4 linked regions of the Homo sapiens genome follow. The protein of the gene in region 1 purifies or fractionates together with the protein of each later gene. This does not show direct contact. Each region holds a gene or a part of one and is shown in the gene's direction. Other genes may lie near its edges.

The links. Proteins that work in one complex are often made in the same cells at the same time.
Region 2: the proteins of PGLS (region 1) and ACO2 fractionate together in Homo sapiens (co-fractionation; one large-scale study listed by BioGRID). This does not show direct contact.
Region 3: the proteins of PGLS (region 1) and IMPA1 fractionate together in Homo sapiens (co-fractionation; one large-scale study listed by BioGRID). This does not show direct contact.
Region 4: the proteins of PGLS (region 1) and UNG fractionate together in Homo sapiens (co-fractionation; one large-scale study listed by BioGRID). This does not show direct contact.

The regions. Positions count from the first base shown.
Region 1 is NC_000019.10:17,518,095-17,521,900, forward strand, and holds the end of PGLS (6-phosphogluconolactonase), read left to right. Parts: intron 1-2,849; coding exon 2,850-2,987; 3' UTR 2,988-3,194; downstream 3,195-3,806. UniProt on the Homo sapiens protein: Hydrolysis of 6-phosphogluconolactone to 6-phosphogluconate.
Region 2 is NC_000022.11:41,475,533-41,479,338, forward strand, and holds part of ACO2 (aconitate hydratase, mitochondrial precursor), read left to right. Parts: intron 1-3,806. UniProt on the Homo sapiens protein: Catalyzes the isomerization of citrate to isocitrate via cis-aconitate.
Region 3 is NC_000008.11:81,659,148-81,662,409, reverse strand, and holds part of IMPA1 (inositol monophosphatase 1), read left to right. Parts: intron 1-1,742; coding exon 1,743-1,894; intron 1,895-2,943; coding exon 2,944-3,059; 3' UTR 3,060-3,262. UniProt on the Homo sapiens protein: Phosphatase involved in the dephosphorylation of myo-inositol monophosphates to generate myo-inositol. Is also able to dephosphorylate scyllo-inositol-phosphate, myo-inositol 1,4-diphosphate, scyllo-inositol-1,3-diphosphate and scyllo-inositol-1,4-diphosphate.
Region 4 is NC_000012.12:109,100,513-109,104,318, forward strand, and holds part of UNG (uracil-DNA glycosylase), read left to right. Parts: intron 1-1,389; coding exon 1,390-1,487; intron 1,488-2,326; coding exon 2,327-2,415; intron 2,416-2,920; coding exon 2,921-3,099; intron 3,100-3,806. UniProt on the Homo sapiens protein: Uracil-DNA glycosylase that hydrolyzes the N-glycosidic bond between uracil and deoxyribose in single- and double-stranded DNA (ssDNA and dsDNA) to release a free uracil residue and form an abasic (apurinic/apyrimidinic; AP) site.

The DNA.
Region 1 (3,806 bases):
CAAAGCTGCATTCAGAGGTAAATTAATAGCATTCAAATGCATTTAAAAAAAATTATTAAGTAGCAAACTATTGAAATAAATCAAGTGCTTTCCTGTAGAATTAGAAAAAGGACAATAATATAAATCTACAAAAGTCAGTGGCAGGACTAAGTGAAATTAAAGTCAGAAATTAATGAGTTGGTTAATATATTTTAAACTTTAATGGTAAGTAGATCTAAAAGATAGAAAAGCTCCTGACAAGGCTAATCAAGAGAAAAAAAAATCACGTGGTATTATGAATAAAAAAAGGTACTGTTATGTAAAGTATTTTAGGAAAATACAAATTCATTACAGCATTAAAAATAAACTAAATAATTAAAAAGGTTTTAGTTGCCTTCATTGAAAAGACCAACAACTACAGAAGAAACTGGAAATATATTTTTATTTTTTTTTTGTTTTTTGTGTTATTGTTGTTGAGACAGAGTCTCCCTCTGTCGCCAAGGCTGGAGTGCACTGATGTGACCTCAGCTCGCTACAATCTCTACCTCCCAGGTTCAAGCGGTTCTCCTGCCTCAGCCTCTTGACTAGCTGGGATTATAGGCGCCTGCCACCAGGCCTGGCTAATTTTTGTATTTTTAGTAGAGAGGGGGTTTCACCATGTTGGCCAGGCTGGTCTCAAACTGCTGACCTCATGTGATCCACCTGCCTTGGCCTCCCAAAGTGCTGGGATTACAGATATGAGTCACCGTGCCTAGCCTGGTTTTTACTTTTCTAAGTGGTTGGAAAAAAGTCAAATGAAGAGCCAGGCCATGCTTATCATCCCATCTACTCAGGAGGCTAAGGCAGGAGGATTACTCGAGCTCAGGAGTTCGAAGCTATAGTGAAATGTAATTGCAACTGTGAATTACCACTGCACTGGGGAACATCACGAGAACTCATCTCCAAAAAAAATAAATCAGGCGGGGCGCGGTGGCTTATGCCTGTAATCCCAGCACTTTGGGAGGCTGAGGCAGGCGGATCACCTGAGGTCAGGAGTTCAAGACCAGCCTGGCCAACATGGCGAAACCCTGTCTCTACTAAAAATACAAAAATTAGCCAGGCGTGGTGGCGTGCGCCTGTAGTCCCAGCTACTCAGGAGCCTGAGGCAGGAGAATCACTTGAACCCGGGAGGCGGAGGTTGCTGTGGGCCGAGATCATGCCATTGCACTCCAGCCTGGGCGACAAGAACGAAACTCAGTCTCAAAAAAAAAAAAAAATCAAATGAATAATACTCCTTGACCTTGTGAAGATTCTATGAAGTTCAGATTACAGTGTCCAGAAATTGTTTTGTTTGTTTGTTTTTTTGAGACAGCTTCTCACCCTGTCATCCAAGCTGGAGTGCAGTGGCGCCATCTCAGCTCACTGCAACCTCCACCTCCCGGGTTCAAGTGCTTCTCCTGCCTCAGCCTCCCAAGTAGCTGGGATTACAGGCACCTGCCACCACGCCCAGCTAATTTTTGTATTTTTAGTAGAGACAGGGTTTCACAACATTGGCCAGGCTGGTCTCAAACTCCCAACCTCAAGTGATCCGCCCCCCTCGGCCTCCCAAAGTGCTGGGATTACAGGCATGAACCACCGCACCCGGCCCAGAAAAGTTTTATTGGAACATAGCAACACCCGCTTATGTATATATTGTCTGCAGCTGTTCTGGGGCCAGAACTGCAGAGCTGAGTGGTTGCAATAGAGACTGGATGGTCTGCAGAGCTTAATCTATTGACTCTGGTCTTTTGCTGAAAAAGGGTGCCAACCGCAGTATTAAACAGTTACAGACCAGGCACAGTGGCTCATGCCTGCACTTTGGGAGGCTGAGGCAGGAGGATTGCTTGAGTCTAGGAGTTTGAGACTAGTCTTGGCAACATAGCAAGACCCTGTCTCTACAAAAAATAAAAAATTAGCTGGGCACAGTGCCATGTGCCTGTGGTCCCAGATACTTGGCAGACTGAGGCAAGAGGATCACTTGAGCCTCAGAGATTGAGGCTGCAGTGAGCCTTGATGCCGTCACTGTACTCCAGCCTGGATGACAGCGCAAGACCTTGTCTCAAAAAAAATGCAAATAGTTACAGTGGGCGGGGCATGGTGGCTCAACGTGGGAGTTCAAGACCAGCCTGGCTAATATGGTGAAACCCCGTCTCTACTAAAAATATAAAAAATTAGGCCAGGCGCGGTGGCTAACGCCTGTAATCCCAGCACTTTGGGAGACCTAGGCGGGTGGATCACCTGAGTTCAGGAGTTCTAGACCAGCCTGACCAACATGATGAAACCGTCTCTACCAAAAACAAAAAAATTAGCCAGGTGTGGTGGGAGGCGCCTGTAATCCCAGCTACTTGGGGGGCCGAGGCAGGAGAATTGCTTGAAACCGGGAGGCGGAAGTTGCAGTGAGCCAAGATCGCACCATCACGCCATCACACTCCAGCCTGGGGGATAAGATCGAGAGTTCATCTCAAAAAAAAAAAAAAAAAAAAAAAAAACTTAGCCGAGCGTGGTGGCACTTGCCTGTAATCCCAGCTACTCAGGAGGCTGAGGCAGAAGAATCGCTTGAAACCGGGAGGCGGAGGTTGCCGTGAGCCAAGATCGTACCACTGCACTCCAGCCTGGGAGACAGAGTGAGACTCCATCTCAAAATAAATAAATAAATAAATAAAAATAGTTACAGTGGATAGAAAGGAAGGGACTCTTGTCCCTGCTGTTTGGCACTAGGACAGCTGAGCTGGGCATTGTCACATTTTGAGGATACAAGAGTCTTATTTATCCTTGGTTGGGGAGCCAGGAGAGTGCCGAGGGGCGGTGCCTGGGCCGCAGGCAGGGCCTTACTCTTCTGCCCTCTTCTTCAGCGCATTTTGGAGGACCAGGAGGAAAACCCGCTGCCCGCCGCCCTGGTCCAGCCCCACACCGGGAAACTGTGCTGGTTCTTGGACGAGGCGGCCGCCCGCCTCCTGACCGTGCCCTTCGAGAAGCATTCCACTTTGTAGCTGGCCAGAGGGACGCCGCAGCTGGGACCAGGCACGCGGCCCATGGGGCTGGGCCCCTGCTGGCCGCCACTCTCCGGGCTCTCCTTTCAAAAAGCCACGTCGTGCTGCTGCTGGAAGCCAACAGCCTCCGGCCAGCAGCCCTACCCGGGGCTCAACACACAGGCTGTGGCTCTGGACATCCGGATATTAAAAGGAGCGTTGCTGGAAGTCTGCACTGTCTCGCGGTGTTTGATGGCAGCAGGCCTGGGGGCGCCCTGGCCTGGGTTCTGATCCATAGCCCTCATCTGTGGGGAGGAAGGCGGGGCCTGCTTCCCTGGGGCATAGCCACCATGGATGAATTTCCTAAGACAACAGGCTGGGCACAGTGGCTCACGCCTGTCATCCCAGCACTTCGGGAGGATGAGGTGGGCAAATCACTTGAGGTCAGGAGTTCGAGACTAGCCTGGCCAACATAGTGAAATCTCTTCTCTACTAAAAATACAAAAATTAGCTGGGCGCGGTGGCTCACACCTGTAATCCCAGCACTTTGGGAGGCCGAGGCTGGTGGATCACGAGGTCGGGAGTTCGAGACCATCCTGGCTAACACAGTGAAACCCCGTCTCTACTAAAAATACAAAAAAAAATTAGCTGGGCATAGGTGGTGCACGCCTGTAGTCCCAGCTACTTGGGAGGCTGAGGCAGGAGAATGGCATAAAACCCAGGAGGCGAAGCTTGCAGTGAGCTGAGATCGCACCACTGCACTCCAACCTGGGAGATACAGCGAGACTCCATCTCGAAAAAAAAAAAAAATACAAAAATTAGCCGGGCGTAGTGGTGTGC
Region 2 (3,806 bases), on another chromosome or scaffold:
GGTGGGCTCTGGGCCTCTCAGCATGAAGGAAGGAAGGTATTGTAGAGAGACTTCTTGTAGCCTTTAAAAAGCAGCAAATGGGCCGGACGTGGTGGCTCACGCCTGTAATCCCAGCACTTTGGGAGGCTGAGGTGGGTGGATCACAAGCTCAGGAGTTCGAGACCAGCCTGGCCAATATGGTGAAACCCCATCTTTACTAAAAATACAAAAAAAAAATTAGCCAGTCGTGGTGGCGCATGCCTGTGATCCCAGCTACTCAGGAGGCTGAGGCAGGAGAATCAGCTGAACCCAGGAGGTGGAGGTTGCAGTGAGCCGAGATCGCGCCACTGCACTCCAGCCTGGGCAACAGGGTGAAACTCTGTCTCAAAAAAAAAAAAAAAAGCAGCAGATGGACCCTCAGGAGCCTTAGGAGACTTCTGCCACTGGCTTACTGGGTAGCTTCGGGCAAAGTCTCAACTCTCTGTGGTCCTGCAGTTAGTTACACATCTGCAAAACAGTGTAATTAATAACTACCCTTCAGTTAAGAAGGGTTCTGAAGGCCTAATATTTGAAAAGTTGTTTTGACTCTGTTTGATGTGTTATAAAGCATTGTGAGCCGGGTGTGGTGCCTCATGCCTGTAATCCCAGCACTTTGGGAGCCCAAGGCAGGTGGATCACCTGAGGTCAGGAGCTCAAGACCAGCCTGACCAACATGGTGAAACCCCGTCTGTACTTAAAATACAAAATTAGTCAGGTGTGGTGGCGCATGCCTGTAATCTCAGTTACTTTGTGGGCTAAGACAGGAGAATCGTTTGAACCTGGGAGGCGGAGGTTGTACTGAGTTAAGATTGTGCCATTGCACTCCAGCCTGGGCAACAAGAATGAAACTCTGTCTTAAAAAAAAAAAAAAAAAAGGCCAGACGCAGTGGCTCACACCTGTAATCCCAGCATTTTGGGAGGCCAAGGCAGGCAGATCACCTGAGGTCAGGAGTTTGAGACCAGCCTGACCAACATGGTGAAACTCCATCTCTACTAAAAATAGAAAAAAATTAGCTGGGTGTGTGGGTGGTCGCCTGTAGACCCAGCTACTCGGGAGGCTGAGGTACGAGAATCGCTTGAACCTGGGAGGCAGAGCTTGCAATGAGCCGAGATTGCGCCACTGTACTCCAGCTTGGGCAACAGAGCGAGACTCTGTCTCAAAAACAAAACAAAACAAAAAAACAAAAAAACACACACACTGCAAATAGTTTCTGATATTATTTTAGGAATAGGCCATTTCTAAGATTGAGAGTAGGGACAGATTTTCCCCTTGTAGAATATCTTCATTTTGGAAGTCTTGAAAGGTAGGGAGAATGGGCCAGGCATGGTAGCTCACGGCTGTAATCCCAGGACTTTGGGAGGCCGAGGTGGGTGGATCACTTGGGGTCAGGAGTTCAAGACCAGCCTGGCCAACATGGTGAAACTCTGTCTCTACTAAAATACAAAAAATTAACTGGGCATGGTGGCGTGTACCTGTAATCCCATTTACTTGGGAGACTGAGGCAGGAGAATCAGGTTCAAGCGAGTCTCCTGCCTCAGCCTCCCAAGTAAATTAAAGGTAGGGAGAATGGTTTCCATATTATTTATTTATTTATTTATTTATTTATTTATTTATTTTTTTGAGACGGAGTCTGGCTCTGTCTCCCAGGCTGGAGTGCAGTGGCGCGATCTCCACTCAGTTCAAGCTCCGCCTCCCGGGTTCACGCCATTCTCCTGCCTCAGCCTCCTGCGTAGCTGGGACTACAGGCACCCGCCACCACGCCCAGCTAATTTTTTGTATTTTTTTTTTTAGTAGAGATGGGGTTTCACGGTGTTAGCCAGGATGGTCTCAATCTCCTGACCTTGTGATCCACCTGCCTCGGCCTCCCAAAGTGCTGGGATTACAGGCGTGAGCCACCGCACCCGACCTCTTTAGTTTTATTCTGCAGCACCTGGGCCAGAGGAAGGGGCACCAGCTTTGGAGCCAGGCCTGGAATTCCACCTTGCTGCGTGACCCTGGGCAAAACAGTTAGCATTCCAGAGCTTCAGTTTCCTCATCCATTAAATGGGCACAATGCCTTCTGCCTCACAGGGTAGTCGTGGGATTGTGTGGATAAAGTACTTGGGGCAAATCCAGTGCAGGGTAGAGGCACTTGGTGAATATTCATTTCTGTCTCCAGCCCCTGCAGATGGCCCGCGGCATCCATCACCCCAGCCTTTATCCTTAGCTCATACGTTTAAAAAAGACCAGTTGTGGCCGGGCACAGTGGCTCACGCCTGTAATCCCAGCACTTTGGGAGGCCGAGATGGGTGGATCACGAGGTCAGGAGTTTGAGAACAGTGTGGCCAATGTAGTGAAACCCCGTCTCTACTAAAAATACAGATATGAGCCGGGCATGGTGGTGTGCGCCTGTAGTCCCAGCTACTTGGGAGGCTGAGGCAGAAGAATCGCTTGAACTCAGGAAGCAGAGGATGCAGTGAGCCGAGATCACGCTGCTGCACTCCAGCCTGGGCAACAGAGCGAGACTCTGTCTCAAAAAAAAAACCAAACCAGTTGTGAAAATTGCTTGTTCCTCCCATCATCTCCCCAGATAGCAGGTAAGTGGTAGTTGTTCAAGGAAACCTTTTTTTCAAGATAGAGTCTCGCTCTGTTGCTCAGTCTGGATGCAGTGGCATGATCTCACTGCAACCTCCACCTCCTGGGTTCAAGCAGTTCTTTTGCCCCAGCCTCCCAAGTAGCTGGGATCACAGGCACGCACCACCATGCCCAGCTAATTTTTGTATTTTTTGTTTTAGTAGAGACAGGGTCTCACCCTGTTGGCAAAGCTGGTCTCCAACTCCTGACCTCAAGTGGTCCAGCTGCCCCAGCTTCCCAAAATATTGAGATTACAGGCGTGAGCCACTGCGCCTGGCCAAGAAAACCCTTTCAATACTGTTTTAAAAGAGTTGGGGGAAGAGGTAGAAATGAATCTTTTGGTTTAGTTTTTTAATTCTCTAAGGACAACATTGGGGAAGTGAGCTTTAGAGTTATATTTGCAGTATTTATTTTTATCATGAAATATTCAAGTCTAGGCCCTTGGTGAATTGAGGCCTGGTGAGTATTTCTGCTTTCCCCCTGGAGAGATTGAGATGGTTTCTGATTGGGAGCTTTAATTCTGTGGGCATTTGTGGGACTTACCAAAGAGGTATCTAGAGTTCCTTTAAAACCCCCGCCCTGTCCCTGCCACATATCTTCTTTTTTTTTTTTTTTTTTTTGAGAAGGAGTCTCACTCTGTAGCCCAAGCTGGAGTGCAGTGAGTGACACGATCTCTGCTCACTGCAACCTTTGCCTCTGGGGCTCAAGCAATTCTCCTGCCTCAGCCTCCCAAGTAGCTGGGACCAGAGGCATGCGCCACCACACCTGGTTAATTTTCTTGTATGCCACACTTCTTTAGTTCCTTGTAGCCGGGCTCCTTGACCTTCTGCAGGGCATCTGTGGTTGTGGTATTTATAAGCACTCACTGTGTCATGAGTGTGTTCACAGAGCTCTAAGACAAGGGCCCTGTCTGTGGAAGAGCTTTTAGGGTGGTGAGGGAGAAGTCATCTAAATAGCTATAATACACGGTACTGAAGCAAGGAGTAGGTGGGGGAATTTGCTGGGTGGGACTAAGTACAGCCTCAGCCACCCGTCCTGGAACATGGATGTAGTGGTGGTGTGTTTGGTCCGCCCACAGACAATGACAGATGCCCATCCAGGCCTGGAGGAGCGGAGAAACGCATTACCCACCATCTGTTGAGCAATCAGGCCCTCTGTGCCAGTCACAGAACTA
Region 3 (3,262 bases), on another chromosome or scaffold:
TGGTGCTCATTAGAAGTGACGGAAGCACCGCTAGTAGATATCACTGTTGTTTGGCTAGCCTAGGATTCTATATCTGAATAGAGTACCAGGGAATTAATTATGAAAGACCTTGGTATTTGCATTCTATGATATGAGATATCAAATATCACATATCTCATGGGAGAAGTGGGGAAATGCACTTTTCTTTATAACTAAAAAACTGCCACTAAAGTTAATTTGATTTTATTTATCTGGGAAACAAACATCTGTGGAAATTTGGTGCACTTACTACTACTTTCTCAAATTTAATGTGCTTCAAAAACATATGATGGAAAACATGCCAAATCAATGACATCATGTTATTCTAATCCTTTTTAAAATTTATTTGGCATAAAGGATGTACTTAGGTGCAATTTTTTTATTTTTATTTTTGAGATATAAAACAAATGCCACATTAGTCATCAGTTTTCCATGTTTTTAAATAAATAAACTGTGAAAGATCTCATTGAACAGAACTCACTCCCTTATTACCATCGCTTTAAACAGTTGGAGAAGGAATTTGTGTAAAAACCACTTGAAAGTAACTTGTAGACATGATGACGTTTGTCTTCTAAATACACATTTCAGCGTGTGTGTCTTTAATAAAAGGGACATTGTCTAACATAGCCACAGTACAATGATAAAAGTAAGGGAATTAACATGGATACATAATCTAATATAAGACTTTATTCAAATTTTGAAAATTTTAATCCAACATCCAGTCTAGAGTCATGTATTGCATTTAGTTGTCATTTCTCATCAATTTCCTTTAATTTAGAACTTGCTTAGTCTTTGTCTTTTATCACCTTGACATTTTTCAGAAGTATAGGCCAATTATTTTGTAGTCTGTCTCTTGAATTTGAATTTGTCTGGTTTCCTCATGATTATATTTGGATCATGGATTTTTGGCAGGAATGCCGCAAAAGTAATGTTCTGTCCTTCTCAGTGCATTTTATCAGGCACATTTCTTTTTGTCCCATTATGAGTGATATTAACTTGGATAACTTGGTAATGGTAGACCATTGTAAAGATGCTATTTTTCCATTGTACTTATTATGTATCTTGTGGAGAGACACTTTGACACTCTGTAAATTATCAGACTCACCCATTAATTTTAACATTGATTCTTTACTGAATAAATTATTACTATAATTGCTATCAAGTGTATTTATATTCAACTTAACTTGTATTCAAGGAAGAGGTGCTATGAGAGGGCAAACCTGCAGTAATTTTCCAAGGCAGGCTTAGGTCTTTGCAGAGCCTGGCATGCTGTTGTTGCTTTAGGCACATGTATGACGCACACCCAGTTGAAAATGACCCATACCATGATATTTTACACCTCCTAGAGACTATTTGCATTGTGGGTATGTGTATATGTGTGTAAAATAATATAAGCTTTAGTAGCTGGATTTAGACAAATATTAATATACTTGCATTTCATTATTGTAGAATTAAGCATTGTCTTTATTTTTTATGAAAAATTATTGTTTTAATGTTTATCTTATTAAATTATTGCTTTGTGAGGGTTTTGTGATTTATATAATATACGATGATAATTAGATTTATACATATTTTTATTTTACAATTAGATATCACCTCTTAAAATCTTTATCCTCTAGATCGTTCCAAGTTTCTTCAATCGACACTTAAAGTGAAGTTAAGGAGGAATATCTTACTTGAAAGGATTATTTTTTCCAATTTTATTTCTAAATTCTATTTGTTAGGATCCGGAGTGTTGGAACAGCAGCTGTTAATATGTGCCTTGTGGCAACTGGCGGAGCAGATGCATATTATGAAATGGGAATTCACTGCTGGGATGTTGCAGGAGCTGGCATTATTGTTACTGAAGCTGGTGGCGTGCTAATGGATGTTACAGGTAAAATTATGGAGAGTGAAGCAGATCTCCACACATCTGTTGGACTTTTGTCCATATGTAGAATTTAAAAAACTTTTTGATATATGTTATACTGCAGTTTTTGAAGCAGAAACAAGCTATATAATTGTGTGCAAAATCAAAATAAGCTTTAGGAGATAGAGGTAAGGATAAGAGGTAATGGTAATGTGAGACTTACAATGATAAATGGCTAATCCTTTTCTAGTGTGAGTTTCAGGTACTCCTGAAAGGCTGTAGAAAAAGCCTAGACCAAGTTTGTCCAACCTGCAGTCCATGGGCCACATGTGGCTCAGGATGGCTTTGAATGTGGCCCAACACAACTTTGTAAACTTTCTTAAAACATAATGAGTTTTTTGCGATTAAAAAAATTTTTTTTAGCTCATCAGCCGTCATTAGTGCTAGTGTATTTTATGTGTGGCCCAAGACAATTCTTATTCTTCCAGTGTGGCCCAGGGAAGCCAAAATATTCGACACCCTTGGCCTAGACAGTCACCGAGTCTGAGGCTTATACCCAGAGCTCTTTGAATGGTGACAATGGTGATAGTTGATGATGGACTTCCTCCACCATCACTTTCTGTGTTGAGACTAGAGAAGTTAAATAATTGCTTTCAACTGATGGTGAAAATTTTAAACCGAAGGGTGAATCTGTGCTGAAAGAATTCACCAGTGATCTGGGAGAAAGGCAACAAAGAAATAAGGAAATGGGAAGGACAGTGGTATGAAAATGCATTGGATTCACATTTTCTGTCCATAGATTCTTAAACAATAAAGAGGTAATAAGAATGCACAAAAATAGAGAAAATATGACATTTTCTAACTGGTATGACTTCATTATTTACTCAAAAATTATGCTTAGAAACAGTTATATATTGTCTAAGCTTATACATTGTAGAAATGTAACAGTAGATTTTTGTTTAAGAAAACTGAAAGTATTAAAATGTTATGTGACCATAGTACATATTGCTATACTTGTTTTATATGAATTATTTTTGTACCAGATAAAATTATTTTTCATACTTGTTTGCTTTTAGGTGGACCATTTGATTTGATGTCACGAAGAGTAATTGCTGCAAATAATAGAATATTAGCAGAAAGGATAGCTAAAGAAATTCAGGTTATACCTTTGCAACGAGACGACGAAGATTAATTAAGGCAGCCTCATAGTCAATCCCAGTTGCTTTTCCCCAGATTTGGTGACTCATCAATGGATATGTGTTTTGGATGTATGATATGCTTGGTTTAAATTCTCTTTGTCCAGGTCAAAAATTTGGAACTTGTTTCTTATTTTACTATGTCTAGGTTTGCAAGAATTGACATAATGTTTGTTTCACTGATTTAAAAAATTTTGCA
Region 4 (3,806 bases), on another chromosome or scaffold:
AATTTAGAATCTAGCTCTTTGGTTTTGAAGCTAAATTAAATCCTATTAAGATCAATACTAATTTGCTTCTTGTTTGAATGCCCTATTCTGAATACCAGTAATCAGTATAAACAGGGAATATTAAAAGGAATATTTTGAGGGAATGCTCAAAAACCAGTTTCAAACCTATGAGGATCAGATGGGCCAGCAGGGCTTCTTGACAGACCAGCATTGGGAGAGTTGTTTCACAAGAGAATATGTTGGCATGGTGTGAACACCAAGGGGAGGGACAAGAGGTCCCCAAAAGCCTCCTGGTCATGGAACATCTGGAGCTGGATTCTGAAAGATAGAGTATGTCAGCTGTGGAGGAAGATTCTAAGAACGCAATGGCAGAAGCTTGAGAATGAAGACTAGGTGGGTGGGCCCTGGATGGGAAGGACGAGGCGGCCTATGTTTCAACACCTCCCGTGACAGGAACTTCATTTCATTTCATTGTCTCTTGCCACCTACTCCCATGGCCCTTTTGATCTGACCTCATTCTCTTCTGGCTCCACCTGTTAGAGGATATAGGGGAGCAGACACCCTCATATGCTGCTGGTGGGAAATCTGAATTGCTTTTTTTTTTTTTTTTTTTTTTTTTTTTTGAGATGGAGTGCAGTGGTGCAATCTCGGCTTACTGCAACCTCCACCCCCTGGGTTCAAGCGATTCTCCTGCCTCAGCCTCCCGAGTAGCTGGGACTACAGGTGTGCGCCACCACACCCAGCTAATTTTTGTATTTTTAGTAGAGATGGGGTTTCACCATGTTGGCCAGATGGTTTCGATATCTTGACCTCGTGATCTGCCTACCTCGGCCTCCCAAAGTGCTGGGATTACAGGCGTGAGCCACCATGCCAGGCCCTAAATTGCTTTAATTCATCGAAAAGTAACTGGGGGCTAGGCACAGTGGCTCATGCCTGTAATCCCAGCATTTTGGGAGGCCGAGGAGGGAGGATCCCTTGATCTCAGGAATTTGAGACCAGCCTCAGCAACATAAGGGAGGCCGTGTGTCTACAAAAAGTAAAAAAAAAATTAGGTGGGCATAGTGGTGCACTCCTGTGGGCCCAGCTACTCTGGAGGCTCAGGTGGGAGGACCACTTGAGCCCAGGAGGGCGAGGCTGCCATGAGCTGTGATGGCACCACTGCACATCAGCCTGAGCAACACAGCAAAACCGTGTCTCAAAAAATTAAAAAAGCAGCTAGGTACATATCTTTACAAGTTTAAAATACGCTTAGCCTTTGACCAGCAACTCTGCTATTAGCAATCTATGCCATAGAAGTGTTTTATTTGTTTTGTTTATGTTTGTTTGAGGCAGGGTCTGTGCTGCTTACATTACAGTATTGTTTAATTCCTGACCCCTGGTGGTTCACAGGTGAAGGTTGTCATCCTGGGACAGGATCCATATCATGGACCTAATCAAGCTCACGGGCTCTGCTTTAGTGTTCAAAGGCCTGTTCCGCCTCCGCCCAGGTACAGTTGCTTTACAGGTGACTGCAGTCCAGACATGATTCCTTTCAGATGTGTACTTAGCTTATTACAAGTGGGACTATCTGGGGCACTGTTCACTAGCCTTGGAGGAGGATTTCTCGGCCTCAGCACCATTGACATTTGGGGCTGAGTCATTCTTTGTTGTGGAGGAGGAGAGGAGTCCTGTGCTATTGCAGGATCTTGTGCCACATCCCTGGCCTCTACCACTGGAAACCAGGAGCAACCCCCAGCTCGTGATAATGAAAAATGTGCAGACATTGCCAAAAGTCCCTTGGGGGCGTAAAATCACCCCTGGTTAAGAACCACTGCTTTGGGCCGGGCGCGGTGACTCACGCCTGTAATCCCAGCACTTTGGGAGGCTGAGGCAGGAGAATCGCTGGATCCCGGGAGGCGGAGGTGGCAGTGAGCCGAGATCCTGCTACTGCACTCTAGCCTGGGTGACACAGCAAGACTGGAAAAAAAAAAAAAAGAACCACTGCTTTTGGAGGATTTGGTGTATGATATACATAAATATGCTAAGGACAGAAAACTGTCCCTGAGCAACAGTGGGGGTCTGGGTTGTAACTGCTGGGTTGATTTACTTAGGTTTTCCAGAGTGCTGTTAAATCCAAGTACAGACTAAAGTAAAGGTCTTTGGCAGAGTCACCTGTTAGAAGGAGGACTGGCAGTGTTGATCTCATTAATCGGCGCCATATGTGCCAGTGTCCCTTCCAAGGGCTGGCTGTAACTTCTAACCTTTTCACATATGTCTTAGACGTTACTGAGCTTTCAAAATTATGCTTAAGATTCTGTTTTTTGTTTTTCTTGTGGCTTGCTTTCAGTTTGGAGAACATTTATAAAGAGTTGTCTACAGACATAGAGGATTTTGTTCATCCTGGCCATGGAGATTTATCTGGGTGGGCCAAGCAAGGTAAGCCAGCGACTGCTAGATTTTTTTTTTTTTTTTTTTTTTGAGACCGAGTCTCACTCTGTTGCCCAGGCTAGAGTGCAGTGGTGCAATCTCAGCTTACTGCAACCTCTGCCTCCCAGGTTCAGGCGATTCTCATGCCTCAGCCTCCTGAGTAGCTGGGACCACAGGCATGAGCCACCATAGCTGGCTAATTTTTTAATGTATTTTTAGTAGAGACAGGGTTTCACCATGTTGGCCAGGCTGGTCTCGAACTCCTGACCTCAGGTGATCCGCCCGACTCGGCTTCCCAAAGTGCTGGGATTACAGGCATAAGCCACCACGCCCAGCCCCGACTCCATTGTTGATGGTAGTGGCTGCTGCCATTATGCCGGCTGCAGCAGGGAAGCACAGCTTGCTACACTGGATCCCATCAAGCATTGGTTTCATCATGGATTTAGCTCCTGTTGCTGGGTATTGGGCTGATTTGCCTGAGCCTACATTTAACCTGTTTCTCTCATGTGTATAGGTGTTCTCCTTCTCAACGCTGTCCTCACGGTTCGTGCCCATCAAGCCAACTCTCATAAGGAGCGAGGCTGGGAGCAGTTCACTGATGCAGTTGTGTCCTGGCTAAATCAGAACTCGAATGGCCTTGTTTTCTTGCTCTGGGGCTCTTATGCTCAGAAGAAGGGCAGTGCCATTGATAGGGTATGTTTTGTTTTCTTTCTTTTTTTTCTTTTTTTTTTAACACTATAAAAACAATGTAAAGAATTCTAGGAGTCCCTGCTGTGTTTGGTCCTGGAAAATCCATGTTATAAAATAACTTTTATTTTCCCTTAGGCCTGTTATAAGGGTTTCCCATTGAAAACTGAGAAGAATTTGGACAAATTATAGGGGTGATGAGTTGTGTATGAGGAAAGCAAAGCAACTGGCCAACTTGTGACTGAATGCAGTTGGTGCTGTAGGCATGAACTTGGTGTCTACAAGATACAAGTCCCTGGGTACCATTCACTTAACAAGTGATGGATGAGGCATGTTTCTGGCTTCCAAGAAATTTGGGAACATATAGAAAACACAAAGAATTCCACTCAATCACAAATTTAACTTGCCCATGAAAATACTATCAGTGATCATTATTGTTTTGTTTCTGGGTTTTTTGTTTTTTGATGGAGTCTCGCTCTGTTGCCCAGGCTGTAGTGCAGTGGTATGATTTTGGCTCACTGCAACCTCCGCCTGCTGGGTTTAAGTGATTCTGCCTCAGCCTCCCGAGTAGCTGGGACTACAGGCGCCCGCCACCACACCCGGCTGATTTTTTTTTATTTTTTAGTAGAGACAGGGTTTCACCATGTTGGCCAGGCTGGTTTTGAACTCCTGACCTCAAGCGATCTGTCCTCCTCAACCTCCAAAGTGCTAGG